3 linked regions of the Homo sapiens genome follow. The protein of the gene in region 1 purifies or fractionates together with the protein of each later gene. This does not show direct contact. Each region holds a gene or a part of one and is shown in the gene's direction. Other genes may lie near its edges.

Evidence for each region.
Region 2: the proteins of CCDC43 (region 1) and GOPC purify together in Homo sapiens (affinity purification with mass spectrometry; 4 studies listed by BioGRID and IntAct, with this or other methods). This does not show direct contact.
Region 3: the proteins of CCDC43 (region 1) and SCML1 purify together in Homo sapiens (affinity purification with mass spectrometry; 3 studies listed by BioGRID and IntAct, with this or other methods). This does not show direct contact.

The regions. Positions count from the first base shown.
Region 1 is NC_000017.11:44,675,210-44,683,149, reverse strand, and holds the end of CCDC43 (coiled-coil domain-containing protein 43), read left to right. Parts: intron 1-1,011; coding exon 1,012-1,147; intron 1,148-2,506; coding exon 2,507-2,565; intron 2,566-4,100; exon of another isoform or gene 4,101-4,106; coding exon 4,107-4,294; 3' UTR 4,295-5,710; downstream 5,711-7,940.
Region 2 is NC_000006.12:117,589,699-117,601,801, reverse strand, and holds part of GOPC (Golgi-associated PDZ and coiled-coil motif-containing protein), read left to right. Parts: intron 1-12,103.
Region 3 is NC_000023.11:17,730,529-17,742,818, forward strand, and holds the start of SCML1 (sex comb on midleg-like protein 1), read left to right. Parts: upstream 1-6,964; 5' UTR 6,965-7,152; exon of another isoform or gene 7,153-12,290. Other genes in the region: actin remodeling regulator NHS, read left to right, coding at 1,330-1,936. UniProt on the Homo sapiens protein: Putative Polycomb group (PcG) protein. PcG proteins act by forming multiprotein complexes, which are required to maintain the transcriptionally repressive state of homeotic genes throughout development.

The DNA.
Region 1 (7,940 bases):
ACCCACCACTAGGATGGTAAATTAGGTACAGAAAACTCAAATCATAAAAGCCAAATTTGGAAAGATTCTGAACTCTGTACACTGTTGGTTCTCAGTTTTGGCTGTATATTAGAATCACTTAATGTACCTGGGTTGGGGCCCAGGCATTTGTATTTTTTAAAAGCTCCTGTAGGTGATTCTAATGTGCAACCAAGTGTGAGAACTACTATTTTACACCATTGTTTCCTTTTCTTGAGACTGGAGAACTTACTAGTTGATTTTATTTTATAGCATGGCAAAATATTTTTTTTTTTGAGACGGAGTTTTGCTCTGTCGCCCAGGCTGGAGTGCAGTGGCGTGATCTCGGCTCACTGCAAGCTCCGCCTCCCCGGGTTCACGCCATTCTCCTGCCTCAGCCTCCCGAGTAGCTGGGACTACAGGCGCCCGTCACCACGCCTGGCTAATTTTTGTATTTTTAGTAGAGACGGGGTTTCACTGTGTTAGCCGGGATGGTCTCGATCTCCTGACCTCATGATCCACCTGCCTTGGCCTCCCAAAGTGTTGGGATTACAGGCGTGAGCCACCGCGCCCGGCCAAAATATTCTTAATCTAAGAATTCCACCTGGCATAATCAGAAACATAAACAGGACCAGCTTAAGTTGATTTTAGATTCCTGCTTAGGTTTTTGGGATGCCATGGGGAAGTTGAGTGTTCAGAGGCTTAGTTTTCTGTGGTTCTAATGCAGTGCTTTTCAACCTTTTTTTTTTTTTTTTTTTTTTAAGGCAGCAGAACTTCAGTATATAAAACAAGTAAAATCAGGGCTGCTCTGATTGAAGATGGATACAAAGCTTGGCCTGCATGGCCTTTCCTTTCCTTTCTCAATGGCCCCCGAGCCATGTCCTTTGAACTGCCAGGCTCTAAGGAGGCAGCAGATGCCAATGTCTTCAGTACAAGTGCTGCCTATGTGGACTAGTGGTTCAGTGAGCTTGTTCTCTCTCATACAACCTTGTTCTTCCTTCCACCACCTCCCAGATGAAGTACAGGCCATTGCCACCCTAATTGAGAAGCAGGCACAAATCGTAGTAAAGCCAAGGATGGTGTCAGAAGAGGAGAAGCAGAGAAAAGCTGCCCTCCTGGCCCAGTATGCTGATGTGACAGATGAAGAGGAATATCCTTTCTGGAGTCTCGGCACCATTCCCTAAAGCTCAAGCCAGACATATTTGTGGGTTTACAGTGACCTTTGGCAAGTTGCTAATCCCCCTCTATAGCTTAATTTTCCCCTCTAAAATGGCAGTAATCTATGGCCCTTTGTGGATATGCGGAGTGATATTGGATTAGTTGATACTGGACTTATATTTTTCAACACATAATCATTATATTCCTGAAAACTTTGGTGTAAAACAAATAATGTCTTAATAGTCCATTTATATTATGCTTTCAGAAAATACAATATAGCTGTAATTCTTTATATTTGTATAATACTTTTCTATACAGTGTAGTATAAAGTATAATCCATCTTTATGTTCTTTCCCAGTCAATAAGGAAACTGAGACACCAACAGATGAATGGGTGATCAGAGGCATTCAGAAGATTAGTGGCAAAACCAGGACTAGAACCTGGGTATTTTTGGGTGAAAGATTCTCTAAATTTAGAGCAGCTTGCATCTTTTCTTTCTTATGTGACCAGGTAGTTAAAAGTAAGGCTGAACCTCCAAAGCAATACCAGAATAATTCTGGACAGAGTCTCGCTTCGTCGCTTAGGCTGGAGTGCAGTGGTACAATCTCGGCTCACTGCAACCTCTGCCTCCCGGGTTCAAGCCATTCTCCTGCCTCAGCCTCCCGAGTAGCTGGGACTATAGGCACGTGCCACCACGCCCAGCTAATTTTTCGTATTTTTAGTAGAGACAGTGTTTCACCATGTTAGCCAGGCTGGTCTCGATCTCCTGACCTCATGATCTGCCTGCCTCACCCTCCCAAAGTGCTGGGATTACAAGCGTGAGCCACCGCGCCTGGCCTCTCTTCTAATTTTTTTTTTACGAGTTTTCTTGCCAGGGTTGGCAGAGCTATGGTTCCGGTGACATAATTTCTCATCTTGGGCTAGAAAAGGACTTTTAAAGCAGTGGTTCTCCTGGAGGACTTGTTAAAACACAGATTGCTGGGCTTCACCCACAATTTAGTAGGTTTGGCATAGGTCCCAAGAATGTGTATTTCTAATATATTCCTGGGGGTTTTGTGAACCACACTTTGAGAACCACTGTTTAAAGGTCATCTGGCTTCCAGGTAATGTGGCAATCCACCCAGACCAACTTAAGTTTCTTTTCAGCCTCCAAGAAAAGGATCTTATAGAAGATATATCAATCTTTCCTAAGTTGAGGTTTCCAAAGATGAATCTCCTGGGTTTATCGCCATATCCCTGATAATGTGCTCCCTCCATTCAGTGTGCTTTTCCTACTTACCAGTCTATTGAATGTTTTCTAATGTTAGGTTGGGATGTTGTTTTCCATCTGACTTTCCTTAACATCACTTACTGAAGCAGATGAGAAGGATGATTCAGGTGCTACCACAATGAACATTGGTTCTGACAAACGTATCCTTCTGGGTCCCTCCCTATGTGTTTCTCCATAGAGTCCTCTTGAGATCAGTTTTTATTTTGCTGTCATTGCTGGCGGCTCCCCTTTACCTTCAGGAACTCATGTCATGCTAACATTGGGAGCCCTATTCCTAGGACAGCCCTAGATAGTCAGTTTAGCAAGAACTTTCCCCAGAGAAAACAAGTTAACAAGTACTGTAAAGGGATTAGTTTGGAGGAAGGATTTCTAAGGGAAAAATAAAAATCTATACTCTGAGTTGCCCAGCATTAGGGAGAAAATTAAAATAATATTGAGGTCAGGCGTGATGGCTTACACCTGTAGTCCTGGCACTTTGGGAAGCCGAGACAGGTGGATCGTTTGAGCCCAGGAGTTTGAGACCAGCCTGGGCAACATGGCAAAACCCTGTCTCTACTAAAAAAAATACAAAACACTAGCCAGGTGTAGTGGCATGTGCCTATAGTCATAGTCCCAGATACTCAGGAGGCTGAGGTGGGAGAATCACCTGAGCCCAGGAAGTCAAGGCTGCAGTGAGCCGAGATCTTGCCACTGCACTCTGGCCTGGGATATGAGAGTGAGACTGTGTCTCAAAAAATAATAAAATAATGTTGAAATTTTCTCTTTTTCCTCAAAAACCTTATAATTTGTCAGAGAATACAAACACCAAACACTTTTTTTTTTCTTTTTTTTGGGACAGAGTCTCGCTCTGTTGCCCAGGCTGGAGTGCAGTGGTGCGATCTCGGCTCACTGCAGCCTCCGCCTCCTGGGTTAAAGTGATTCTCCTGCCTTAGCCTCCCGAGTAGCTGGGACTACAGGTGTGTGTGCCACCATGCCCGGCTAATTTTTTGTATTTTTAGTAGAGACGGGGTTTCACCTGTTAGCCAGGATGGTCTCGATCTCCTGACCTCATGATCTACCTGCCTCAGTCTCCCAAGTGCTGGGATTACAGGCATGAGCCACTGCGCCCAGCCTAAACTCATTTTCTATCTCTTATAGATTCAGTGTGTATGGTTATTAGAATGTGGTTTTCACTTCAGCTTTAGTAGTCTAGGAACAAAAGCAAATTGATAAAGTTTAATAAGGTTAAACATCTTATTTAACTCTTTTAAGGCATTTTAACAGAGCCAAGTACATAAACATTTAGTCAGTTACATTACTACTCTGTTCACCAAAACTAGCCTAGATTCTCTAATATTCTGCCATTGAATGATATAAGTACTTATTCTAGAATGAAATTTCATTTTGATGAAATATTTTGTTTTCTTATTTTTTTGTTTCTTTGGTAAAATATTTTAAAATTCAGATTTAGGTAAATCTGAATAAGAGTTTTATTCCAAAGGACATTTTAAAACTTTTGTAATATAGCTTTAGGATTTCTCTGTTAGACCAAGGATAAACATAAGGGTTTTTTTTAAAAAACCAGGAATAGATAAAGACGATTCAGGACTCAGCAGGTGGAGAGAGGATAAGTAGAATGAGGAAAGGCAGCAGTAGGTGTGATCTGTGTGACCTGTACCCTAATCCCTTAACTCACCTGTAGTTCTGTTCCGAAACACCAATGTGGAAGATGTCCTTAATGCCCGAAAACTGGAGCGAGACTCACTTCGGGATGAATCCCAAAGGAAGAAGGAACAGGACAAGCTGCAGAGGGAGAGAGACAAACTAGCCAAGCAGGAGCGCAAGGAAAAGGAAAAAAAAAGGACACAGAGAGGGGAGCGAAAGCGATAACCTTGGCCTACTCTATTCTTTCCCCCCATGAACTTATCAAAGGGAGAACTGGTTGTGTATTTAAGAGAAATGAGAGTGCATTGCAAAGTAGTTTCCCAAGGCATTTCCCCTATTGTTTACATGGTCAAAAGGAAAATCAAAATCACTTCTAATTACAAAATGTGCTGTTTTGGTGGGGTGGGCAATCAGATTATTATAGTTGATGACTGTACCAAAGATCTGGAATGGGGGCCACCTTTATATTTTAATACTCAAGTCCTGTGCTCCTTTTGGCCACTTTAAAAAGTCTTCCCTCACCTTGGATAAATAGGATTCAGAAAGCTAACAGTTTTCATTCTGAAGGAGCAGAAACATAATCAATCCCTCCCTGAGATAAAATGTGGGCATGCACATTGCTTTGGAGTCAGTATTCAGCTGTAAGTGTAGTATTGTTTTATGGCTGAAATAGAAAGCTAATGAAGAGGCCTACCTGGATCCAGATTTTATGTTAACATGGCAGCAAAACTAGGAAAATGGGAAGAAATTACTTGCGGGGTGTTCTAGATCTGATTTTTTTTTTTTTTTTGAAAGTTTCAGCCTGTGGGAGGAAAAGAGGTATCTTTTAAAATAGAGATAGTTACATATTTTCCTCATCTAGGCTGTGTCACTATTGGGTGCAAGGATATCATTGTTGGCTAGATTCATTTTGTATAATCATGTATCCTCTTGTGTGCTGGTAGAGATTTTAATCCTGATTTTTCCATAAAACATGAGTATTAAGAAATAATTCCTGGTTTGGAGAAACTGGAGAAATCACCCTTTTAAGGAAGAAACACTGGAAATTTCTGCTAACACCAAGATATTTAAGAGTGTACATAGTAGGTGCTCAACAAATTTATTGAATGAATGAGTGAATGGAAAAACTGGGAGAGTCAAAAGTGAGCAGAAGCTCTCCATTTCTACTTCTGTCACAAACCACATTAAATTGTAAATAAGGCCCTTCTCCACTTGACTTCAGGCAGCAGATTGTCTAGAAGCCTAAGGACAGCAATTTCTCTGACAAGACAAAGTAGATATTTTATACCAGGGGTTGGCAAACTACTGCCCACGGGCCGAATTTGGCCCAGTCTGTTTTTGTATGGTGCAAACTAAAAATGATTTTTACATTTTTAAAGAGTTATAAAAGAAAAAAATATGTGGTCTGTGAAATCTAAAATATTTACTACCTGGCCTGTTGGAGGAAAGGTTTGCCAATCTCTGTTTTATACCATTAACTATGAGATTAACAAAAACTTTTACCTTTGTGCAGAAGGTTAAAAAAAAAAAAACATGGTTAAGGAAAAGGAGACATGTTACCTCTTCATACACTCCTATAACTGTGGCATTGCAAAAAATAAAAATAACCACCTTTAAAAAAATAAATCTTATTTAAATTGCTGTCTTCTGACTTATTTTGATTGCTTCTACGTACCCATGGAAATGAAATATGTGTGAGTAGTTACTTAGGAATGTGTTGATTTTTATTTTATGCTTTGTTTTGATTAGCCCTATAACTTATATTCCACTAGTGGAAGCTCTTCCTGGAATCCATAAATCCTCTTTCTCAATTTTCCTTTTTGTGAAGTAGGAATTAGATCAGAAAGATTAGCATGTTTTTTGGAACATCAGGAAATTGGCTTAGAGGTCCTTACTATTACAGTCTTAGTCCTTTATGTGGTGGTAGCGATAGGGTATGATAGAGCCTATTTTAATTTAGTAATCCTTATTTTGGGATTTTGGGTTGTTCTCACCTTGATTTTTGTCACTGAAGGAGTCAGGTTATATCCACGGTCCCCTGAAGGGTACTTGTTTCAATTTGTTAGTAGTCAGTTCTTTCTTCTGGGACTCTGCTATGTATGTCACAGTTAAGTATACTCTCAAACTAATGCTTAAACAGAAAATAGAGGATCAGCTCATTAGGCTTTGAGTTTAGTTATCCACTTGACTCAGGTGCTAATAAATCCTTTACGTCTAAAATGTTCAGTATTGCAAAGGGCATATTTTTTTTGTTTGTTTTTTGAAACGGATCACTCTGTCACCCAGGCTGGAGTGCAGTGGCGCCATGTTGGCTCACTGCAACCTCCACCTTGCGGGTTCAAGTGATTCTCCTGCCTCCCCCTCCCAAGTAGCTGAGACTACAGGCGAGTGCCACCACACCCAGCTAATTTTTTGTATTTTTAGTAGAGATGGGGTTTCACCGTGTTAGCCAGGATGGTCTCGATCTCCTGACCTCGTGATCCACCCGCCTCAGCCTCCCAAAGTGCTGGGATTACAGGCGTGATCCACCGGCACCCAGCTGCAAAGGGCAAATTTTAAACAACCATATCTTCTATGGTAAGATTGAGTTTTAGGCCAGATTTTGGATTTCAGTCATAAATTCTCAACCCTCTAAAACTTTATAGTAGCAGATTATTCAAGTGAGAAGGACACTGATAACAACTCAAGGTAATTTTGCTTTTTCCATTAAAAAGAATGAGTACACCAAGTTCTTTCAGATTAGAAATGGCGGGAGCATCAGTTTTATCAGTTTCACTGCAAATTTTGTAAAAGTTTTATAATGTTTTCATAGGTTGTAATTCAGAAGTACAATGTTTTATAGGTTGTAATTCAGAAATACAAGTACATAAGAACCATCTGTTAGAGGATATGCCACTGAAAGGGACAACCGACTAATTTAAAAATTATCTATTGGGTGATATGATTAACAATATTTCAAAGAATTTTTTTAAGTGTTTGGTTCTTATTAACGGACTGGTATTTCATTTCTGACCAGTATCATGTAAAAGCTTCCCTAAAATTTTTATTCTGGTTTACACGGATTAGCATAAAGATAGAGCAAAAATTTCATCTTTGAAGGAGATCTGGTTAGATCCATGGATATCTGAATGGCATTGATTTATAAACCAACATTATTACTTGTGCGTTAATAATGAAATCTAAAACTTAGTATAAGTTCTTAAATGAAATTCATTTGACTTTCTGATATGAGTGACTCTTAAGGTTAGAAACATATGAATTTAGAAAAATGAAACCAAATGTTTTCAACAAAGTAATTTATTTTTTTCCTGAGACTAAATTCAGTACAGTATTTGTTTTTATAACATCCAACATGTCTTATGTTAAACTTAACCACTTTCTATGCAGTGACTGTGGTGAGATGATCTATTTTATTTGACTACCCTCAATGTAATTCATTTGGGTAGTTCTAAGGCATATCAGTGATCAAAATGTTTCTCCCTACAGTTACTCTTGCATTCTCAATCAGTTTCTTCTGCACATCATCTAAAGAAAATTTATGTGGTATGATTACACTCTTTTTTTTTTTAATACCAGAATTTCTAAAACTAAGAAAAACACTAACATTTAAAACATCAGTGTTTCTAGTCAAGGATATTTCAATTAAATTTCATCAGTACATTATAGTTTAACTCATGCTAGAAATGTTAAAACCCAAGATCTTCTGAGTCACATAATACCAACATTTCATATTAACGAATAAATTACTCAAGTTCTATACAAAGATACTAAGTGATGAGAAACAGAAAAAGTTAAGCTTTCAATAGTTTTAAAAAAATACAGAAGCAAACTAATGAACACAACTACGCAAAATATAGGCTAACCAATTGCA
Region 2 (12,103 bases), on another chromosome or scaffold:
GTCGTCCACCTTCCTAGTATCTCTCTGAGGAGGAAACTAATTACATACACCAGCCTCCATTGCACATGTTACATTAACAAACCTAACAAAGATTCTCTGTCATGAAAATACCGTAGGCCACCTTTTGACAACTGAGTTTTGCAGATCTGCTTTCACATTGATAAACCGAATTTGTATATGTTAAGACAGATACAGCACTGATTATTTTCATTTTAATTATTCCAGGTCAGCGCCTATGATTGCATACAGAGACATGCATAAACTATTTAGGGGAATCTGATCAAAGCTCTTAGGAAAATTTCGTGGTGCATAACGATAGTATCACTGTCTCGGTTTACATCCATAGTTGGTTGTTAAATTACAGGCAGATACCTCCAGAGAGCTCCCTGCAATTATTGAAATTACTTCTGACCTTGAGTTTTTATATGCTTGTACATTACTGTGTAATTTTCCAAAGTCTGGATTTATTTTTGAGAGAGTGTAAAGAATCATTTGCTTTAATCTCTGATCCTGGGTGTGGGTGAGGGTGGAGTGGCTGTGGTTCAAAAAAACAAAAATATCATATTGTGCAGAAAATTTAAAAAGGACATTATTAAAATATTTAGAAATCAAGATAGATTAACATTATTGCATAAAGAGTACTTTCTAACTAGGCAATTTAAGAGAATGGGTCTTTCTTTTCAAAAAGTGTAATAGATAAAAATGGGATAATCAGTGATGTGCAAAACTCTGAACATGCTTTCCTAAGAAATCATCATTACTCGTTGTCATTGACAGTGCCCATTATATCTATATCAATATGAATGTCAGTTAAACATCCTCTCCTTGCCTAGTGGTCAGCATTCTTTCTCTCCTATTAGCCATGAAATATGTGGCATAATTAATCTTTGATTAACATAGATTTACATATCCAAGAATTGTGGCTCTTCTCCACTGCGAGAACTGTTAATTTCTTCTATCCTTTTTGAAAAGATTAGAAAGTGCTAATATGAAGGTAATCACTTCTTACTGTAGGTAAATGAAAACATCTCTTGATTTCTTTATTGGTAGTAATTTCCACAAGAAAGCTATTTTTCTCAGATAGTGAAATTGCATTTAATGTTTTCTAGAAATAGTACTTTAACTTTATTTCATCTTATTTTATCTTATTATATTTTTTTCAAAAAAGAGATGGAGTGCTTTGTTGCCCAGTTTGGTCTTGAATTCCTGGCCTCAGGTGATCCTCCTGCCTTGGCCTCCCAAAGTGCTTTGATTACAGACATGAGCTACTGTGCCTGGCCATTAGTTCTCTAGCTTTAAACAACAAAGATCAAGAGTAGCCTTTACCACATGGTATAATTCGAATGTGTCCCCCAAATTTCGTGTATGGGAAACTTAATCCTCAATGTGACAGTATTGAATCTCCAATGTGGGGCCTTTAAGAGGAGACTGGATCATGAGTACTCTGTTCTTATGAATGGATTAATCCACTTATAGATTGATTTGTTATTGGATAAATGGATGAATGAGTTATCATAGGAGTGTAGAACTGGTGGTTTATAAGAAGAGGAAGAAAGACCTGAGTAAGCATGTTAGCATGCTCAGCCTCCTTGCCATGTGACACCCTATGCTGCCTCCATACTCTGCACAGATCCCCTGCCAGCAAGAAGGCTCTCGACTTCTCGAGATCTGGCCCCTCGACCTTGGACTTCTCTGTCTCCATAACTGTAAGAAATACATTCCTTTTCTTTATAAATTACCTAGTTTCTGGTATTCTGTTATAAGAAACAGAAAGTGGACTAAAACATCACACGAGAAATTTCATATCATTTACAACTGCAGTATCAACTGGGCATTAACAACTTTTTAAAAATGAAACAATATTTTATTTATTTTTAAAATGACCTAAGGAAACTTTAAACAGGGATTTGATGTCAGATATAAAAATTGAAATTGGGAGGAAGGATAATTTTCTCAGTAGGAGGCTGTGCTCCATTTTTTTTGTCTTTAAATATTTTAGATGAGTATTCAGAATTGTAATAAATTATGCATGTTCTTTTTTCAGAAATTAAAATCACACATTCTGACTTTATGTCCTGGTTTAGGAGGTTGCATTGTTTCTCAAAATAGGAAATGCTAGCATATCACAATGTGAGCATATTTTTTATGCTTGAAACTGTTGATTTAAAGATCATAGGAAAATGGGGAGGGGAAAAATCCTAATGATTTTGGTTTGTTTGTTCATTTGTTTGTGTTTTTTCAGTTACAGTCAACTTGTTTGTCTTTGATGTTAATCTGTACACGTTTAGCAGCTTCTGCCGTTTTTATGGAATCAATTGTGTATTGCTGTGGAAAGAAGTTCATTGTCAGCAGTGCCTTTCAAAGTAGACTTGCTGCTGTTCCATCTACAGAATTTCAGTGGTTGCTCCATATATTGTTTGAAAGCTTGAAACAATTTCCATATTTTCTTGCCCTTTTTTACTTTTTAGGAAAAGGATTGAATTTGTTCTATTGTTTTAATTATATGGACATTAAGACATATTTGAAACCACTTATGGTTTAATATGACAAACGTGACATTCAGTGGTTTCAGAGGTTAATACCTTTAATCATATTACTGTAATAAAATATTTTTATATAATGAAGAAACAGATACCTCCAATTTGGGTAATTTATAATGTAGTTAACATTAAACACTATATTTATTATTAAAATATTAAATTTTGCTGCAAAAAAATCATAGGTTACTTTTTTACTTGAATAGGCTATTAGGGCTATTCTTTTTTATTTTTAATTGACATAATAGTCGCATCTTTTTAGGGGGCACAGTGTGGTATTTGGATACACATAATAATGATGAAATTAGGGTAATTAGCATATCTGTCACCTCAAACATTATTCATGTTAGAAACAATTCAAAACCTGCTCTTCTAGCTGTTTGAAAATATACATTAAGCTACTATTAACTGTAATCATCTTATGGTGCTATAGAATACTAGAACTTTTTCCTCTTATTTAGCCATAATTTTGTTACCCCGGGCTGTGGACCAGTACTGGTCCGTGGCTTCTTAGGAACTGGCTGAACAGCAGGAGGTGAGCAGTGGGCAAGAGAGCATTACAGCCTGACCTCTGGCTCCTGTCAAATCAGTGGTGGCACTAGATTCTCATATAGATTCTCATAGTAGCACAAATCCTGTTCCTGTTGTGAACTGCACATGCGAGGTATCTGGGTTGCCAGCTTCTTGTGAGAGTCTAATGTCTTTTGTTGAAACCATCCCCACGCTGTCCTGTGGAAAAATTGTCTTCCACAAAACCAGTCCCTGATGCCAAAAACATTGGTGACCGCTGTGTTAACCAACATCTTCCTACCCGCCTCACCCTTCCCAACTTAACAGTAACCACTGTTGTATTCTCTACTTCTATGAGGTCAACTTTTTTTTTTCTTTTTTTGAGACAGGGCCTCACTCTGTTACCCAGGCTGGAGTGCAGTGGTGCAATCATAGCTCACTGTGGCCTCCAACTCCCAGCTCAGTTGATCCCTCTGCTTCAGCCTCCCAAGTAGCTTGGACTACAGGCATGAGCTACTATACTCAGCTAATTTTTCTATTTTATTTTTTTTTTTTTTTAGTAGAGATGGGGTTTTACTATGTTGCTTAGGCTGGTCTTGAACTCATGGGCTCAAGAGATCCTCCTGCCTCAACCTCTCGAAATGCTGGTATTACAGGTATGGGCCACCATGCCTGGTAAATCAATTTTTTTAGCTTCTACATTTGAGTGAGAACATGCATTATGTATCTTTCTGTGCCTTGCTTATTTTTACTTAATGTCCTCCAAGCTCATCCATGTGGTCTTCAATGCAGGATTTCATTCTTTTTTATGGCTAAGTAGTATTCCTTTGTGTATATATACCACTTTTTTTTTTTTAATCTTTTCATCTGTTGTGGAAATATAGATTGCTTCCGTATCTTGGCTATTGTGAATAGTGTTGCAATAAACATGGGAGTGCACATATTGTTCAAGATACTGATTTCCTTTTTAGGGGGCATATATCCCTAGTGTATATGTTCTATTTTTAGTTTTTTGAGAACATAGATTACATCTTAAAATTAAATACAAATGATATCCATGTGACTGCTTTTTGCCATAGCAATATTTGGGAAGAGTCATATCTGAGGAGAATGGAATAGCAGAGAATATCAGTGTATTTTGAGGTGGTGCCATTTCAAATTGCTCACATCTCTCACACTTTCCACATGCTTGTGAGTTTTTGCTGTCATGAGCCACTTGATCATGGCTATGCTAGAATCATAGGCATTGATTGGAATAGTAGTGGCACTGTGGAAGAAAAAAGAGAAACTTTTTATCTGAAGAATGTGCCCCCCTTCACCACTTCTATTCAATGTAGTACTAGAAGTCCTAGCCAGAGCAATCAGACAAGAGAAAGAAATAAAGGACATCCAAATGGTTAAAGAGGAAGTCAGACTGTTGCTGTTTGCTGATGACATGATAGTATACCTACAAAGCCCTAAGGATTCATCCATAAAGCTCCTAGAACTGGTAAATGAATTCAGCAAAATTTCAGGATACAAAATTAATGTACACAAGTGAGTAGCCCTCCTATATACCAACAGTGACCAAACTGAGAATCAAATCAAGAATCAGCCACTTTTATAAGACTTGCAAAAAAATTAAAATATTTTGGAATATACTTAACCAAGGAGATGAAAGACCTATACAAAGAAAACTATAAAACACTGCTGAAAGAAATCATAGGTGATACAAACAAATGGAAACACATCCCATGCTCATGAATGGGTAGAATCAATATTGTGAAAATGACCATACCACCAAAAGCAATCTACAAATGCAATGCAATTCCCATCAAAATACCACCATCATTCTTCACAGAACTAGAAAAAACAATCCTAAAATTCATATGGAACCAAAAAAAGCCCACATAGCCAAAGCAAGACTAAGCAAAAAGAACAAACCTGGAGGCATTAGGTTACCTGACTTTATACTATAAGGCCAAAGTCACCAAAACAGCATGATACTGGTATAAAAACAGACATATAGACAAATGCAACAGAATAGAGAACCCAGAAATAAAGCCAAATACTTACAGTCAACTGATCTTTGACAAAGCAAACAAAAACATAAAGTGAGGAAAGGACACCCTATTCAACAAATGGTGCTGGGACAATTGGCAAGCCACATGTAGAAAAATGAAACTGGATCCTCCTCTCTTACCGTATATAAAAATCAACTCAAGATGGATCAAAGACTTAAATCTAAGACCTGAAACCATAAAAATTCTAGAAGATAACATTGGAAAAACCCTTTTAGATATTGGCTTAGGCAAAGACTTCATGACTAAGAACCCAAAAGCAAACACAACAAAAACAAAGATAAATAGATGGGACTTAATTAAACTAAAAACTTTGTGCACAGCAAAAGAAATAATCAGAGTAAACAGACAACCCACAGAGTGGGAGAAAATCTTCACAACTGTACATCCGACAAAGGACTAATATCCAGACTCTACAAGGAACTCAAAACAAATCAAGAAAAAAACAAACAATCCCATCAAAAAGAGGGCTAGGGACATGAATAGATAATTCTCTAAAGAAGATACACAAATGGCCAACAAACATGAAAAAATGCTCAACAACACTAATGATCAGAGGAATGCAAATCAAAACCACAATGCAATACTACCTTACTCCTGCAAGAATGGCTATAATCAAAAAAATAAAAAAAAATAGATGTTGGCACGGATGTGGTGAAAAGGGAACACTTTTACACTGTTGGTGGGAATGTAAACCACCAACCACTATGAAAAACAGTGTGGAGATTCCTCAAAGAACTAAAAGTAGATCTACCATTTGATCCAGCAACCCCACTCCTGGGTATTTACCCAGAGGAAAAGAAGTCATTATATGAAAAAGATACTTGCAAACATGTTTATACTAGCACAACTCATAATTGCAAAAATATGGAACCAGCCCAAATACCCATCAATCAATAAGTGGATTAAAAAAATGTGGTGTGTATATATACAGACACCTGGAATATTACTCAGCCATAAAAAGGAATGAAATAGTGGCACTTGCAGCAACCTGGGTGGAATTGATTGGAGACCATTATCTAAATGAAGTAACTCAGGAGTGGAAAACAAAATGTATGTTCTCACTCATACATGGGAGCTAAGCTAGGAGGATGCAAAGGCATATGAATGATACAATGGACTTTGGGGATCTGGAGTAAAGGGTGGGAAGGGGATGAGGGATAAAAGATGACACATTGGATACAGTGTACACTGCTCAGGTGATGGGTGCACCAGAATCTCAGAAATCACCACTAAATAACTTATTCACATAACCAAACCCCACCTGTTCCCCAGAAACCTATTGAAAAAACAAAACAAAACCCAAACAAACAAAACAAAACACAACTGAGTTCCTTTCCATTGTGAGGCCTAGAGAGGCATTGGAATGAAACCGCAGTTATGGCACTCCCTTTTGACCTAAGCAGTTATCTCTGGAAGCCACCTTCTATGTAGGATTTAGACTAACTGACGCCAAGTAGCCATAAAATACCATATGCTGGACACCATAAGTCATACCTTATAGTGCAACAATGAATAGCCAGTCACTAATCAGTGATTGTAAACCAATGAGAATTCTTATCAAGCAACTTTGTATCTGCCTTGTTCCTTTTTCCCTTTAAAATCTGCTTGTAACTCAGGTGCCAGAGCACTCCCCAGGCATCTGGGAAATATGTGTTGAGTAGCTGTCCTCATTTTGGCTCAGGTAAACTAAAGTATATTTTGTGCCTCAGCCTTTTCCTTTTAGGTTTACAGTAGGAATAGTAATACTAGCAGTAGTAGGTGTGTTGGAATAGAATAAAGATTGTGAACCAATACTTTAAAAAATTCACCTCTGCCTTGAAAGAGTGTTCTGCCTGTTACTCCTTTTTTAAAGTAACAGCACAACAATACACCTTCTTTCACATCCTCCTTTCCCTCAGCAATTGCTCTGTTAGTATCTCTTTGAAGTGATTTATTATTCATAGCCAACAGTAGAGAAACTTTTAACTTTGATCTAGAGCCACATTGATAATGAACTGGTGATATGCTTGTCCCTTTGCTGCTTTAAATCTGTCCTGTTTTTAAATAGGCTGTTTTGCAACATTGAAGCTTAAGTTTAATATTGATCCAGTACGCACTTATGAACACGAATTATGTGCCAGATGCTGTATTGGGCACTTAGGATACAATGGAGAGCAAAAAAGGGATGTAGTCATGGCTTTTATGGAGTTTGGATTATATTGGAGGAATTTGTTGGGAGAATAATCATGTAAATGAGAAATTGCAACTTTGATGAATACTATGAAAGGTACATAAGAGTAAATGAGACCCTATTTTGGGATGTCAGAGAAGGCTTCCCTGAGGAAGTTATTGAGCTAAGACATAAAGGAATTATGTGTAAATAGGAATGAATTAAGCTAAGAGAAATAGGAATGCCATTCAACATTGCCGTAGAGGGAATGGGAAGTGAAAAGCACCTGTGGTGGGCAAGCGCATAGTGCATTTGAAGATTCGAGAGATAGTTGGTATGTGTAACAAGAGAAGAGGGCAAAAGAAGCAAGGCACAAGATAAGTTTGAACAGACAGAGAGGGACTATTTCTACATGACTTTATGGCCATGCAAAAATATTTGGGGCTTTATCATAATCGTGGGAAGTCTTTTAAACCAGTTCGTAGCCTCAGATATGAAGTTAGAATAGTTCACTCTGACTATGGTATGGAGAAAATTGCAGAGAATGACATGAATGAATGCAGAAAATTGTTTAGAAGGTTTCTGTTTATGTGAGATTATGATAGTGTGGAGTAAGATAATAGAGGTAGGAGAAGGTATTCAGAACAAGAGAAACTGGAGAGGTAAAAATAAAAAAAACCTAGAGATGGATTGGAACAGAGGGATGAGGGAGTTCAGGATAAATCCAAGTGACAATCTTGTGCAGCTGGTTGCCTGAATAGATAGATGAATGTGTTATATTATTAGCAATAACAATATTGCCAACTTTATTGATCAGTTACCATGGGCCAACCTCTCTTCTGAGTCTTTTACATAGACTGATTCATCCAATTCTCACAACAGTCCTGGAAACAGGTTTATTAGTATAGTTACTCCAACTTTACAGGGATTAAGTAAGAGGCCTGAGGCTACGGAGCTAGAGAAATCAGTCTCTGCACAAACACATTATGTCTGATGGGGGATGGAGGAGGTGGAGAGAGAAGCAGACAGAAAGAGTGAGTGTGGCTGAATAGATAGCAAGAAGTGAGATTGTAGGGTACAAGGGAGGTTTTGTTTTCATTTTGTTTTTAAATAAAAACAAATAAAACATAAGTCTGTGAGAAGCATCTACTTGAGAGAAAAGCCAAATATAGAAAAAGAGTGGGGTAGTTAATATTAGTAAGATTTTGTAATAACAGCTACTTAGAAGAGGGAGAGAATGGGAGCAGACAGTAGGAGGTTGTGGAAGTTTCTGTCTGATGGCTTTTTTTTTTCTGTAAAATAGGAGCCCACGTCAGTTGCTAAAAGTAGGTGAGAGTAAGAGCATGAGGCTAGTAGAAGAGGTTTGAGATAGTAATGGAAGAGTGGGAGAGCCAATTGGCCAGAGAAACAGGACTGCCAGGCATTGTTGAGGAATGGCTTGGGGTTAGTTATCATAAATTATGGTGCAACCGGTCTGTACTGTTGTGTGATTTTCTCTAGCAATGCATATCTGTTTAGGTACAGGCACAGTAATGAGAGTAATAACTAGGTTTATTCAATGTTATAGCAAAGGAGTTTGTTATACAGACAAGTGTGTTATTGAAGTGAAAGTGGTAATGGGGCTGATGAAAAGGAGATAAATTGAAGACTAAGGAAGGAGAATTGACAGGATTTGATAATTATGTAGATGCAGGAGATAAGAGAAAGGGTTAAGGATAACACTGCATTTCTGTTTGGGAAATGATTGATCAGTATCTGTAGTGGGTTGAATCGTATCCCTCCAAAATTCATATCCACCCCCAAAACCTCAGAATGTGACCTTATTTAGAAAGAGGGTCTTTGCAGGTGTAATTATGTAAAGATGGAGGTAAGATTATAGTGGATTAGAGGGGGCCCTAAATCCAATGAAAGTGTGCTGATAGGAGACAGAAAAGGCCACACACAGACACAGAGAAGAAGGCTATGTGATGATAGAAGCAGAGATTGGAGTGATGTATCTACAAGCCAAGGGATGCCAGTGATTGCCAACAGCACCAAAAGCTGGGAGAGAGGCACAGGATCTCCAGAAAGAGCCAGCCCTGTCATACCTTATTTCAAACTTGGGGCATCCTGAAATGTGAAAGAATAAACTTATGTTGTTGTTTTAAGCCACCACGTTTGTGGTAATTTTTTTTTTTTGACAGAGTCTCACTCTGTTGCCCATGCTGGAGTGCAGTGGCACAATCTCGGCTCACTGCAACCTCTGCCTCCTGGGTTCAAGCAATTCTCCTGCCTCAGCCTCCTGAGCAGCTGGGATTGCAGGCGCCAGCCACCATGCCCGGCTAATTTTTATATTTTTAGTAGAGACAAGGTTTCACCATGTTGGCCAGGTTCGTCTCGAACTCCTGACTTCAAGTGATCCTCCCGCCTTGGCCTCCCAAAGTGCTGGGATTACAGGCGTGAGCCACCGTGCCCAGCCTTGTGCTAATTTTTTGTAACAGCCCTAGGAAGTTTATACATTACTATTTACTGAAGTAAGGAATACAGGAAAAGGAGGAGCAGGTCTGGGAAAGATAATGAGATAAGATTAGGATATTTTGCATAATTAAGGTCCTTATTCTTCTCGGGTGTTCCTAACATAGTCTCCTAATCATTATTCCTTCCAAACCATCCTTTGGTTGCCTGATCATTCTAGAGTGATTCATACTAGTGGTTTGTATTTAAAAAGACAAACCTAATTCTGTCATTCTTCTTTCTGTATCTCTCTAAAATTCAAATTCTTTGGCCCGGTGATCAGTGTGCCTGTCTGTCTCTCCTTATCTCTTATCACCCCTTCTTAGCTGCTTTTGCCTCAATAAAACTGATCTATTTGCAGTTCTGTAAATAGGCCTTGCTCTTTTATGGCACCTGTACTTTCACATAGGCTTTGGTGTATAATGCCTTCTCTATACCCTTTGTCTACAGTATCAAACACACACTCATCTTTCAAGACTCCACTTACGTCATTGTCTCAGAGAGGGCTTTCCTTACTCCACTCCTCTCTGCTCTTTATAGGCAGAGGCTGCCCTAAGCCCTTGAACTTATTTGTACTTTTAGATTTGTTACATTGTACTATAATTAGCGTTTACCACATCTTTCTACCTCTAGAATGTAAGCTGTTTGAAGGTCAGAACCATGTTTTAGGGGAAATAGTTTGAACCATCAAATGCTTTGTGAAGCTGATTTAGAAGGCAGCATTATCTTTTTGTGAACTTATTTTGGTTTCTAGGAGCTTTTTGTTTGTTTTTTGTATTCTTTGCTTCCATGCTCCCAAACCACATTGCTGAGTACTTCCTTTGGTATAGATATCAGATTGGTTTATATAAGGATTACAGAATTGGTATTTGGCCCCTTTTTAAAATTGGACATTTGGGGCCGGGTGTGGTGGTTCACGCCTGTAATCCCAGCACTTTGGGAGACTGAGGTGGGCAGATCACCTGAGGTCAGGAGTTTGAGATCAGCCTGGCTAACATGGGGAAACCCCATCTCTACTAAATATACAAAATTAGCTGGGTGTGGTGGCGCATGCCTGTAATCCCAGCTACTCGGGAGGCTGAGGCAGGAGAATCGCTTGAACCTGGGAGGTGGAGGTTGCATTGAGCTGGGATCATGCCACTGCACTCCAGCCTGGGCAACGGCGTGAGACTCCTTCTCAAAAAACAAAACAAAACAAAACAAAACAAAACAAAATTTGGAACTGATGTGTTAAATACCAATCATTTTGATCTAGTTATTCCCTGTTTCACCTGTCAGGTGTTTTCATATCTCACCTTTCCCTTTCCACTCCCTGTATTAGCAGATCTCCATTCAAAGCTCAGAGAACTTCTTTCTGACTACCTCCCCTTACCTCTTTTTGAATTGGTACATCACACGTCTTTCAAATAGTGCTTACCACACGTTGCATCACAATTGGAAATGTAATCTTTTTATCTTTTTTTTTTTTTTTTTTTTTTGAGACAGGGTCCCACTCTGTTGCCCAGGCTGGAGTGTAGTGACACGATCATGGCTTACTGCAGCCTCGACCTCCCGGGCTCAAGTGATCCTCTGACCTCAGCCTCCTGAGTAGCTGGGACTACAGCCATATACCACCACGCCCAGCTAATTCTTGGTAATTTTTGTAGAGACAGGGTCTCACTATGTTGCCCAGGCTGGTCTCGATCTCCTAAGCTCAAGCAATCCACCCGCCTTGGGCTCCCAAAGTGCTGGGATTAAGTTGTGAGCCACCATGCCCAGCCTGGAAATACATTCTTATCTTTTCCTAATAGAAAACTTCTAGAATCCATGTCTTATTCATCTTTTTGTCCCCAGATTGTGGTACACAGTGAGTACTCAATGTTTATTTGAATGAATGAATTTTTTGAAACGCATCTGGTGTTCTGCTATAAATCTTCAAAGATTACCCACAATCATTCTGTAATATAAGCTTCATGAGAGCTAGGATGGTATCTGTCTTGTTGACTCTATATTCATGTATACAGTGCCTGCTCCATTGCTGAAAGACTGATCTTCAGGTTCATTTATTCCTCTGGTATGTAATTCACAAGCATATAATTTGTGAGTTAATATTTCATGGTATCTTATTTTGGGAAAAAATTGAAACTGATTGAAAATAACTTTAAACATCATGAAATAAGAATATTGAGTATGGATTTAGTACTTGTGATATTCCTAAAATATTGAGTAGGTTGATTCTCCTCCCCACCCCATCTCCAGTTTGATCATGGAGCAACTGAGTGCTTTGAAATTAAAATGGAAACATTTTTTATTGATTGGATCTTCATTTGAGGTTTACGGCAAATTACTTGTCAGATTTATCAACTGGTTTC
Region 3 (12,290 bases), on another chromosome or scaffold:
TGAAGTTCACATTTTCTCTACCATATGAATCTTTAAGTTGATGAAAGTGCATGCTGCCTATCAATGAACTGAGTCATACTGAAGATCCACCAAATTTATGCCTGCTGATTTACCAAAGAAAATCAATAATATGATGATGGGAGTCAAGGTTCAATAGATGTATTGAGTTTGGTAATCTTAGACTTGCATTTGTGCAGGGTTTACTTATTTATCTATTTACTTGTTTATTTACATCACAGCAAAAAGAATTATTTTGTTTTCTTGCGAGCTTACAGTATACAAAGCTTTAAGAGCTCCAGAGATGGTCTGGGATTTCAATTCCCCACAGAGAGCTGGCTTACTGCTTAATATGCTCTTGATGCTCTTAGGAAGCTATAGGAAATGATACTTGCAGCCCAAGATGAATTGACTTAAAACGTCATTTAATTATGTTTTTATATGGAGGGATTTTAAAAGGTAGAATAGTATAATGTCTGCTGACATATCCATCATCCAGGATTATCAACTGTCAAACTAGGGCCAATCCTGTCCCACCCACACCTCCATCCACTTGCTTTCTCTGGTATTATTTGGAAGCCAATCCCAGACATCAGATCATTTCATCTGTATTGCAGAGACAGAGTTAATAAGAAAAAGTTATAGTCTTTCACCCCCTGGAACCAGAAGTATAGTTTAGTTAGCAGTATAGTTTCTTCCTTTTTTTTTTTTTTTTTTTTTTTTTTTTGAGGCAGAGTCTTGCTCTGTCGCCCAGGCTGCTGGAGTGCAATGGCGTGATCTCAGCTCACTGCAACCTCCGCCTCCCGGGTTCAAGTGATTCTCCTGCCTCAGCTTCCTGAGTAGCTGGGACTACAGGCATGCTCCATCATGCCCGGCTAATTTTTGTATTTTTAGTAGAGACGGGGTTTCACCATGTTGGCCAGGATGGTCTCGAACTCCTGACCTCAAGTGATCTGCCTATCTCGGCCTACCAAAGTGCTGGGATTACAGGTGTGAGCCACTGCGCCTGGCTGTTAGCAGTATAGTTTCTTAAACTTTTACAAAGTATCCTCTAGAACCTCTAGCCTCCACATTAGCCATTATCTGAAATGATCATCTCTAGAACCTAATTTGTGTCCTGGTTATCAGAGAATTTCTCTCAGACTGTGGGTGCTACAAGGACAAGGAACATATCTTACTTTTCATCTCTATAGCCCTAATGCTTAGTATCCCATCATATAGGACAGGCTCAAAATGCACTTTAGACAGATGTGTGAATGCGACTGAATACTTCAGTTTCATAAAAACGTGAACTGAGTGAGATGTTTGCCCCATTTTCTCCTTTTCTCAAAGATCCAAGAGGAAAGTACTTGGAAGAAAAGATTCCGGGGACATGTCTGTTCGAAGCAAATCGAGAGCTCCCCTCAGCAGTAGCAGCAGCAGCGCCAGTTCCATCACTTCACCCAGCAGTAATGTGACAACCCCCAACAGCCAGAGGTCTCCTGGTCTCATATACCGAAATGCCAAAAAGTCCAACACATCCAATGAAGAGTTTAAGCTGTTACTGCTCAAGAAAGGCAGTCGCTCAGATTCTAGTTACCGCATGTCTGCCACTGAGATCCTGAAGAGCCCCATACTGCCCAAACCTCCTGGGGAGCTCACAGCAGAGTCCCCTCAGAGCACCGATGATGCCCATCAGGGGTCACAAGGGGCTGAGGCATTGTCCCCACTCTCTCCATGCTCCCCACGAGTTAATGCAGAAGGCTTTTCCTCGAAGAGCTTTGCCACCTCAGCATCAGCAAGGGTTGGACGTTCTCGGGCCCCTCCTGCAGCCAGCAGCAGCCGCTACAGTGTCCGCTGCCGGCTGTACAATACGCCCATGCAGGCAATCTCCGAGGGAGAGACGGAAAATTCTGACGGGAGCCCACATGACGACCGTTCCTCCCAGAGTTCAACATAGACTGCCTGTACCAGGCTGCCTGGCAAAGGCCAAAACCCTTACTCACATGAGGATGGAGGAACAGAACAGAGGACTTGGGAAAAGTCTCAACTTGATGGGGTAGCATCACTGCTAAGCAATGAATGAATTTCTAAATACAGTATGTGCTGGGTAAACAGAAAGTGGTTTAGACATTCTTGATTAGTTTCCATATTTTAAGTAGCTGCAGTCTTTCATGTTTTTCTTTAGCATAGTTTGATTTACGCAATCTCCTTCCTTGTGAAAATAGAGGATACAAAATTGTCTAATTTTCATGACACCTAGAAAACGTTTTCCCAGAGCTGCCTATTCAGAAACTAAAGCCCTCACTGTCATTATTCTTTAAGAAGATGAAATTACTCTGGATGTTTGGTATTTTTTTACATTAAAACAAACTAAAGCAAAATTTAGAAGAAAGAACTACACATATGTAAATACCATATTTTTGATAAAAATGTGTAAATAGATTTATCAATGATGAGTGGACATGTGGTCAATTATCTACTGCACACCAACTGTTTATAGAATACACAAAAATAAAATGTAATAACTGTATTCTGTGAATACCATTTTCATATCAAATGCCATATTTAAATGTCCACCAATATGATTTCTGAGTGGTAAACCTCAAATATGAATTTTAAACTGGTGAACTAAAGGAAATCTTGAGGTCATATACTGAAATATGAATAAATTAAAATAATGAATTCAGATCTAATCATTTTTATGACAAATTGCAGCACCAAACAAACTAATAGCAACCCATGGCTGTGATTTGTTGTGTGGTAATTTGGACAGAATGAAAAGCATGCTTTTGATTTTTTTTTTAATCAGTGAGAGAAGTCATCATTCTCAACACAAAGCCCTGAACAACAGCATTTGACAGTGTCCTTTAGATTTTAATTTTTTCAATGGATTGCTTTAAAGAGAATGAGTAGGGAAAATAGTAGTTAATTTTAGGTTATGTTTTATATTAGGCTACTGGGGACATAAACGGTCATAACTAATGACTGTAATCATTAAACTCCTTAAACAGTTTAGAAATTAGCTCCAGGTTCTTAAACTAACAAAAATAAAACCTAAGCATGCCACAGAGCTATTGATTAATCAGTAAGTACCTGTAATGAGTTTTCAGTGAAGCTTTCTCTCTGTGCTGATGAGATTCATGCTACCTAAAAATTAACAGAAATGACACTGTGAACAATGTAGTTGGAAAATAGGTATGTGTATATGCATTATTTATACTCATTGTTAAACTGGGAATGGGGAACAGCTCTGGTTCACAATACTACATACAACTGAGTTTTTGTCTGGTTTTACTATAGTGTCTGCTTGATGGCAAAAGGGGAGGGTGGAGGGTGGGAGAGGAAATGTCAGGGCATGTGCTCTGATAAAATAAAGGCAGGGAAACAAGCTGAATTACTTGAAATTACTTGAATTTTCTTGTCTTAAAACTGAAAAAAAAATGTAGTTACACGTTAAAATCTGCAAATGGTTTTTACACCTCTGATTTTAACATGAACTTATACTAATGTTTGGAATCTTATGTCAGAAATATAAGCAGCTATGTACTTAGAATAGGTTTTGAATGGGAGAGGTAGAACAGAGAGAGAATTAAGAAGGGATCTGACTTATAAAAGACTAGAATGTGATTAGAGTGATAGAACATACCAATGTTACCAAGAAATTGACAAGCTGCTGGCTTTAAGCTTATGCAAGTGGTAGTTGGGAAAGTAGGAGGTGTGGAAGAGGGTTTGCATTTTGGATTAATTCATGCAAAATGAAGGAGGAAGCCTGGTCTAAGAAGATACTGTCTTTCAATAGAAATGATTTCTAAACTGCTACAGATTAAGAATAGATAATCTGATTGCTGTTGTTTTGTTTGTTTGGAAAGAAAAAAAATGTCTGGCTTCTTCTACTATTTGTTTTCACTACCAAACTGTGTTACTAAATTTCTTGTCATCCTTGTATGTAAAATGGGTGCTGGGGGTGGAGGGGTATAAGAGGAGGGAGAGTCAGAGAGAGTGTGTATGGGTGTGTGTGAGTGTGAGTGTGTGTGTACGCACACACACTGGGGATAGATAAGCTACCTGGTAAAGGGTTTGAACATTTACAAAATGTCACACTTTTTCTTAAAAGAAAAATATTTTGGGGTTTGAATAAAATGGACCACCATTTCTCATTGGAACCCATTAATTAAGAAAACCAGCATGGTTTGACACCACATGGGAACATGAATAAATCTGTCTCATGATTTGAAAAGTACACCTTGCAAAGTTTTAAAAATAAAGTTTTTAGGCAAATGCGATAAGAAACCGTCATTTCCAGTCACAGTAGGCGATCTTTCGTAATTTCATAAAAGCAGTTCGTTTGCAGTATGGCTTTTGTGTAGTTAGGGGTTTTTTAAGTGTGAAGAAAGGTATGTGGGCTTTAAAAGTGATTCTAAATCTTGAATAGAAAACACATGAATTGGCTTTAATAAAAATGTCACCTTTTTATTATTGACATTAAGTAATGGTACCATATATTTTTTAAAATACATATTGACTTGAATTGTGAGGCAATAAGATACCTTCTATATGTAATGATCACAGAACTAACCCTTATAATATAGTTTTACTTATTTTGTTTACTCTAAAAATCTATAGCAGAGTTTCTCTATTTTATATTTCATAGATTTAAAAAACCCAAATAAAGATGGATTTAAAATTCACTGTGGAAAAGAGTATTGAGTTACAAACTGAGAAGAAAAAGCAGGAAGTTCCCTAATAATCTGGAATATTCTACATGGCTTGATTACATAGCAAACAAGACCAAGATTTAGGGCTGTCTTTAACATCACTGCCGTCTTGAAGCAGGGTACACACGTTAGGTATTGTGAAGAACATCAATCCGAACTTTTCTTCTGTTGTTTGCACTGATGCGATTTTTTGTTCTTTTATGTTTATACAACGTATCTATGTTGTGTAGGGGAAATTTTTTCATTTTTTAAAAATTCTACTTTGGTTTTGTTGTTGTTTTGATTTGTTTTTGGCTAAGTAGAGGACATGGACTAGTTGTAGCAAACAGAACATGCTGTTTGCTCTTGCCAAAGGTCAGTGAGTGAGTGCATTTGCTGCAGTGGTGGCACGTAGAGAACTAGATGGTAATAAAGATTTAAAACTATGAAGAAGGTTACAGTGTAACTATTTTGGTACTAGAACCAGTTCATGCTGGCCGAAACGACAATGGTTTATGGACTTGCATCCATTTTGTATTTTTGTAATATTTGTAAATATGAACTTTTTAAATTGCTGCAAAGATGGTTTCTTTTGTAAGATGTTTTCAACGTTTACATTCAATCCAAGCCTTTGTATATTTTAGAGCTGTGCAACACTTTAAGTCTTGTATTTATTTTTAGTAAAAATGGTGACAGTTTCATTGTGAACCCCTCTCAAAAAAAATGTATCAGAAAAGTTTGATTACCTAGAAAGTGTGTATAGAAACTGCAAATAAACGTGACTGCAATTAAACAACCGGTTTCTCTCTTCACTGTTACGTAATTGATTTCTTGGGGCTTCGCAACAGTGTTTTACAGGCAACAGGACATAAGGGCAGGGTCTGTTATGGCAAAAGTAGGAGCAAAAAGAACATAGACCAGCCTGTCCAACATGGTGAAACCCGTCTCTACTAAAAATACAAAAATTAGCTGGGCATGGTGGCAGACGCCTGTAATCCCAGCTACTCTGGAGGCTGAGGCAGGAGAATCGCTTGAACCCAGGAGGCAGAGGTTGCAGTGAGCCGAGATCACACCGCTACACTCCAGCCTGGGCAACAAGAGCAAAACTCCGTCTCAAACAAAAACAAAAACAAAAAAAAAACATATACTATATCTATAATGGGCTTTAATCTAGCTTCGTATTTGAGAGGAAAAATGATACATTTCCAACGTCCAGTATACTTTCTTTGTAGCTCCTCTCTGGGCCAAGAAAAGATGTATAGCTTTACTTTGAAATATCTGCCTGCTTTGCTTCTGATAATTACTCAGACTGTGTCTCCTTCCCAAGATGAGCAGCCTCGATATAAGTATGTAAGACTATATGCCACTAGATGATGTCACATAGCCTTTATTACAATAGCAAAATTCTATGCCAGGTACTGTTCTAAGTGCTTTGCATACATTAACTCATGTAGTCCCCATATTATACCCATTTTACAGATGGGGAAACCGAAGCACAAAGCGGTTACTTGGCTTGCCTAAGGCCATAGGAGGACTGTGTTGGAGCTGGGGGTCCAATCCAGTAAATCTGCCTTCAAGGTCTGCGTTAGTTCCCCAGTCCAACTTGTGGGTGCTGGAGACTGGAAATATCTTGCCCGCCCCCCACCCTGGCCCCCCTCGCCCTTCCTACCAGACCTGGCTCAGGGCAACTGCTAAGGCCCCGCCCCTCTCCTCATTCCAAGTCAATCACTGGCGTGCGTCCAGGAAACCCAGTTTACGACGACGTCTCTGGTGCGTCACAGAGCGCGGGGGAGGGGCGGGATCACATTAAAAAAAAAAAAAAGCTTCGGACACCCCAACAACGAAGGGGGGACACCACGTCCCTAACTACAACGCCACTAGAAGGGTTGCGCATGCGCGCCAGCCTCCTGCGCAGCCGCAGAAACCACTCAGCGCGCGAGTCTCTGAAAGGCCTAACGTCCATTTTCAATCCTGCGGGTCTTGCGAAGGAAAACCTGAGGTAAGAGGCCCCGCCCCACAGCCATCTCCTCAGCAAATTCCCGCCCTCGGCCCCGCCCCACAGCTATCTCCTCAGCAAATTCCCGCCCTCGGCCCCGCCCCACAGCCATCTCCTTAGCAAATTCCCGCCCTCACCCAAGGACTGGGAGAGCACCCGCGGATTGGCCGATCAACGGTGACGCCTGTCAGTGGCCAGACTCCGATTGGTCAGCGGGTAGTCCCGCCCCCCCCCCCCCCCCCCCCCCCCCCAACCGCGAGTGTGGGAATTCGGCGTCGCGGGAGCTCTCTGATCCACTCAGGGGTCAGGGCATCACTGGTCTCGCGTGCGCGTGACCAGGCCCGGTTTCCGGTGCCAGGACCTTTCCGAAGCGTCGAGTGGCCTAACGGTCACAGCTGTCGCCCATCGGAGAGGCAGGACTACTGCGAGCAGTTTTACCGCGACCTCCGGAGGCCGGCGTGACAGGCTCTGTCACTAAAATAGGTCTGTCCAGTCGTACTTTTTCCTCACCTTGAACTTTCCGTCACGGGAATACACGATTTGGCTTAGGGGCCGGGGCTCTCCTGAGGAGAGAGGGTTTGCTTTGCGGGGAAGAGCGAGTCTTGACTTCGCAGCCTCCAATTTCAGCCGCGGTGTGGAGGGGGGTGCTTTGGGTGGTCCCCACAGCCTTTCCGGAGTGCCCGCGCGTGTAAGCTTTTGAGATTTGACAATTTGTGAAGTGCTTGGTGCTGACTTTCGGGGACGACAGGATCCTTTTACAGTCATTCTCCTGTCAGGGGAGGCAGGTGGGGAGCGAGGAAGGATCCAGATTTCGTTAACAGAGCTTTGAGTTTAAAGAATTGACAAACTCCCGAGTTGATTTCCTGTCAGACCTTTTGCGGTTGAGACATAGAGTCTGAGGCTTTGATGGTAACCGCGTTTGATTTAGAGACAGACTGTGCAGCTTCGCTGTTTTATTGTAAATACGTAAATGAGGAGGAAGAGAAAAACGTAGGGTGTTGGGAGCAGAGGCGGGAGGCGGGAGATCCTGCGAAATCGGAGTCCCTTTGGAGTGGGGGAGGCCGTCGAGGCGTGCGAGGGCCCGGCCCCCTTGCCGCGTGGTCGTTAACAGGAAAGGCCCTGATTTGGTTGGTGGCGGATCGCGTCCCTCCCTCCTCTCCCCGGCTCTCCCCGAGTGCGGCAAACTGGCTTCAGGTTGACTAAAAGATAGCGATTTTCCAAGCAGCTTTGCCGCGCGGTGTTTTCTAAAGCGGGGCGTGGGCTGGGTGCCCTTTTGGGCCTCACTTGTCCGGCCTGCGGCAAGTGCTGGGCGATGGGATGCGGTTCTGGCGGCAAAGGAAGGGCTGCCTTTGAGAGTCCCGCAGGAAGGTTTAGAAAGTGATTGTTCTTAAAACAAACAGAGCGTTTTGCTGTGTGTTCCTCAAAGTGGTCCCGGTGGGAGTGGCGCCTCATTGTGAGCTGTGCCTTATCTGATGAATTAATGGCAGGTGAAAGCCTTGCGCCTCCGGAGCGAATATTTACGACTTTTGAAAATGTCTTTAATGTCTAAAAAAAGTCTTTTAGAAAATCAGACGGCCTCTTGTTCTTATGTTATCAAGAGTTTAGATTTCTGTGGTAAATATAAGTGAGTTTCATTTTAAGTAAACTCATTTTACGAGATTTGAGATTTGAAAGTGAAATTAATTAATTTTGCACAATCTAGCCTTGGGCTCTGAGAAAATGTTGTAAAGCTGTAATTAATCTTGTGGGACGAAGTGAAAAGGAACTAAAGTGTATGGTGTAATGAATAGTTTAAATTTCTGTGGTAAATACAAGTGAGTTTCATTTTAAGTAAACTCATTTTTATGGGATTTGAGATTTAAAAGTGAAATTAATTAATTTCGCACAATCTAGTCATGGTTGGGCTCAGAAAATGTTGTAAAGTTGTGATTTATCTTATGGAAAGAAGTGAAAAGGAATTAAGGTATATGGTGTAATTAAGAGTTTAAATTTCTGTGGTAAATGCAAGTGAGTTTCATTTTAAGTAAACTCATTTTTACGGGATTTGAGATTTAAAAGTGAAATTAATTCATTTTGCACAGTGTAGTCATGGTTGGGCTCTGAGAAAATGTTGTAAAGCTGAAATTATTTATCTTGTGGGAAGAAGTGAGAAGAAACTAAAATGTGTGGTATTATCAAGAGTTTAGATTTCCGGGGTAAATATAAATGAGTTTCCTTTAAACTCATTTTTGTGGAATTTGAGGTTTAAAAGTGAAATTAATTTTGTAGAATCTAGTCATGGTTGGGCTCTGAGAAAATGTTGTAAAGCTGTAATTTATCTTGTGGGAAAAAGTGAAAAGGAACTTAAATTTATGGTGTTATCAAGAATTGGCCAGGCGCGGTGGCTCACACCTGTAATCCCAGCACTTTGGGAGGCCGAGGTGGGCAGATCACTTGAGGTCAGAAGTTCGGGACCAGCCTGGCCAACATGGTGAAACCCAGTCTTTACTAAAAGTACAAAAATTAACTGGGCATGGTGGTGCAAGCCTGTTACGCTAACTACTCGGGAGGCTGAGGGAGGAGAATTGCTTTAACCCGGGAGGCAGAGGTTGCAGTAAGCCGAGATCATGCCACTGCACTCCAGCCTGGGTGACAGAGTAAGACTCTGTCTCAAAAAAAAAAAAAAAAAAAAAAGAAATTTAGATTTCTGTGGTAAATATAAATGAGTTTCATTTTAAGTAAACTCATTTTGTGGGATTTGAGATTTAAAAATGAAATTAATTTTGCACATTCTAGTCATGGTTGGGCTCTAAGGCAATGTTGTAAAGCTGTAATTGTTTGCCTTATGGGAAGAAGTGAAAAGGAATTAAAATTTATGGTGTGTCTACTATGAACCAGGCATGATGCTGAGAGTTTAACTGTGTAATTTTTGGCCTAAATAGCCCTGTGAAGTAGATATTATTCCAACTTTACAGGTTAGAAAATTTGAGGCACAGAGAGGTGAAATATTTGCCTAAAGTGAAACGGCAAATTTGGCAATTTGGACTTGGATTCAAGTGTTTATAACTAAAGCCCAGCTCCTTGCATCATACCCTGGTACCTAAAAGACATAAAAACTCACTTCAGGTGCAATGTGAATGAAAATGACGTTATGACCCAGGCTTGTTGTCTATGTGCTCCTTGAGAAATAGTTCTGTTGGATAGATGCGGTCAATACTCAAAAGCCCTTGCTATCTTTGCCATGCATTACTCTAAGCACTTGACATGTATTAATTTAATCCTCACGATTCCGTGAGGTATGTGCTATTATCATTCCCATTTTACAGACAAAAAAAAAAAAGGATTTAAGTAAGTTGTTCAACTTACTTACACAGCTAGTATGTGGGGGAGGTGGGACCCAAACCCAGGTATTCTGACCACAAGCCTAAGGTCTTAATGCTGTTTGATGCTGCCTCTCATGTAACCAGATATGTGTGACAGTTGCCGTAGAAGTATTAAAGTGTGAGTGTTATTGTAGTTCAGGGAAAGCCGTGTCACATCCACATGGGATGATCATTGGCATGGTGCCCTTGCTTTTTGGAGGTGAAACTTGAAGTAAGCCTTGAAGTTGAATAGATTCTCCTAGGCGGAGACACAACAGGGTATTATGGACGGAGGGCATAACAGGAGCGAGAAGCTCAAAGAGTGAAAGATTGGTGTTGATTTGTATATGTACCAGAGATGTAAACATGTTGGGAGTCCAGTGGTGGACTCACTGCACAGTGCTCCTGTGTCTAACTACAGCCAAATTTTGACAACATTGTTATTAATCCAAATAGGGAGTTCTCTGTTCTCTGGATGTAAGAGCTTGTAACCATTGTCTGCAAACTTGCCTGAAACAGGCTACACAGTAAATATTTTAGGCTTAGAACTGCTGTCCCCAGTCTTTTTGGCACCAGGAACCGGTTTTGGTTTTGTGGAAGACAATTTTTCCACAGATGCAGGGACGGGGGAGTGCTAGCGGGGTATAGTTTCCTAATGAAACTGTTTCATAAGGAGAGTGCAACCTAGATCCCTCGCATGTGCAGTTCACAATAGGGTTTGTGCTCCTGTGCGAATCTAATACTGCAGCTCATCTGACAGGAGGCGGAGCTCAGGCGATAATCCTTGCTAGCTCCTGCTGTGCTCCTAACAGGCCAAGGACCAGTACCAGGCGGTTGCCCAGGGGTTGGGGACCCCTGGCTTAGAGTAAAGGGGCAAGTGGTAAGAAGTGACCTCTGCGCAGTGGGCGGGGTCCTGATTATGGAAGGACCTTGCAGGCCATGGTAGGAGTTTGGATTTTACTGTGTTATTGGTAGCAAAGGTATACCAGGTGATTTTAATAATGAAGTAAAGTGCATAGAGTGTGGTGGTAGACTGCACCATTTACTAGCAATGGGACCTGGGCAAATTACTTAAATCAAGCTTGTCCAACCCGCCTTATTTTGTTGTTGTCGTCATTGTTGTTGTTCTGTTTTGTTTTGTTTTAGGCTTTCGGCAGCCTGAAGCTATGCTTTTTAGTTTCTGTCTCTAGGGATAAGTGGAAAAGAGGGATGAGGAAGGGGCTTTCCTGGCCCAACCAGAAACAAACTAAGAACCCATGACTATATTCCCTCCCTTGGACACCCCTAGTAAACGTTCTTTGCTTCAGTTTCCTCATAAGGAAAATGAGGACAGTAATAGAACCTATCCCACAGGGTTGTCAGTAATTTAGCAAGATAGAATACCTAATCAAAGAATCAAAAGAAAGTACAAATTAAATTAGAAATAATAATTTTAAACTGTGGTTTTGCTAAAAATTCTGTAATTATGATGAAATGATTATCCTTCTGGATAAAAATAATTTGTCAAAACAACTCAAGAAAAAGTAGGATAATTTGACTAGATCATCAACCATGGAGGAACTTAGAAAATGTTATAAAAACTGGACCCAGAGAGTTTTTTTTATAAATTCAACCCTTTGAGCACAAAAATTGTCGTGCGATGTAAACTTTTTAGAGTATAGAAAGAGATGAAAGGCTTCCCAGCTAATTTTGCAGAGCAATTTTGATACCAAGTGTTAATAATGTAGCAATACAACACTGATTCATTAATTGTGAGAAATATACCATCTCACCAATGTAAGATCTTAGAAATAGAGATGCAAACAATTTCTAAATAAAACACCAACAAATTGAATGTTGTTGTTTATAATCAGCTGGACCCCTCACCCCAAGAACATTAAGAAATGTATTAATATGTTGCATCAGTAGATCAAAAGAGAAAAGTCACTTAGTCATCTGATGCCAAGAAGCTATTTGGTACTATGTATTATCTGTCCTGGTTTTAAAACTACATGCAGGACCAGCAGGATACTACCTTAGTTTATTTTGGAACATCTGGCTGACCCCAACAGCCCTCCTTAGTGGGAAGAAGTAGAGGAGAATTTTCAAACGTGGAGACCTATCCATTGTTTCTACCTCTAGGAATTTATCCCATAGAACTACTTGCACAGGTGCAAGACTGTTCTGCAGTGTTCTTTATAAGAGCAAAACTTTAGAAGTAACTTGAATATCTATGAATTGGGGGCTGTGTTTAATAAATCATGGCATATTTACAAGATAGAACACTAAGAAGTCGTTACA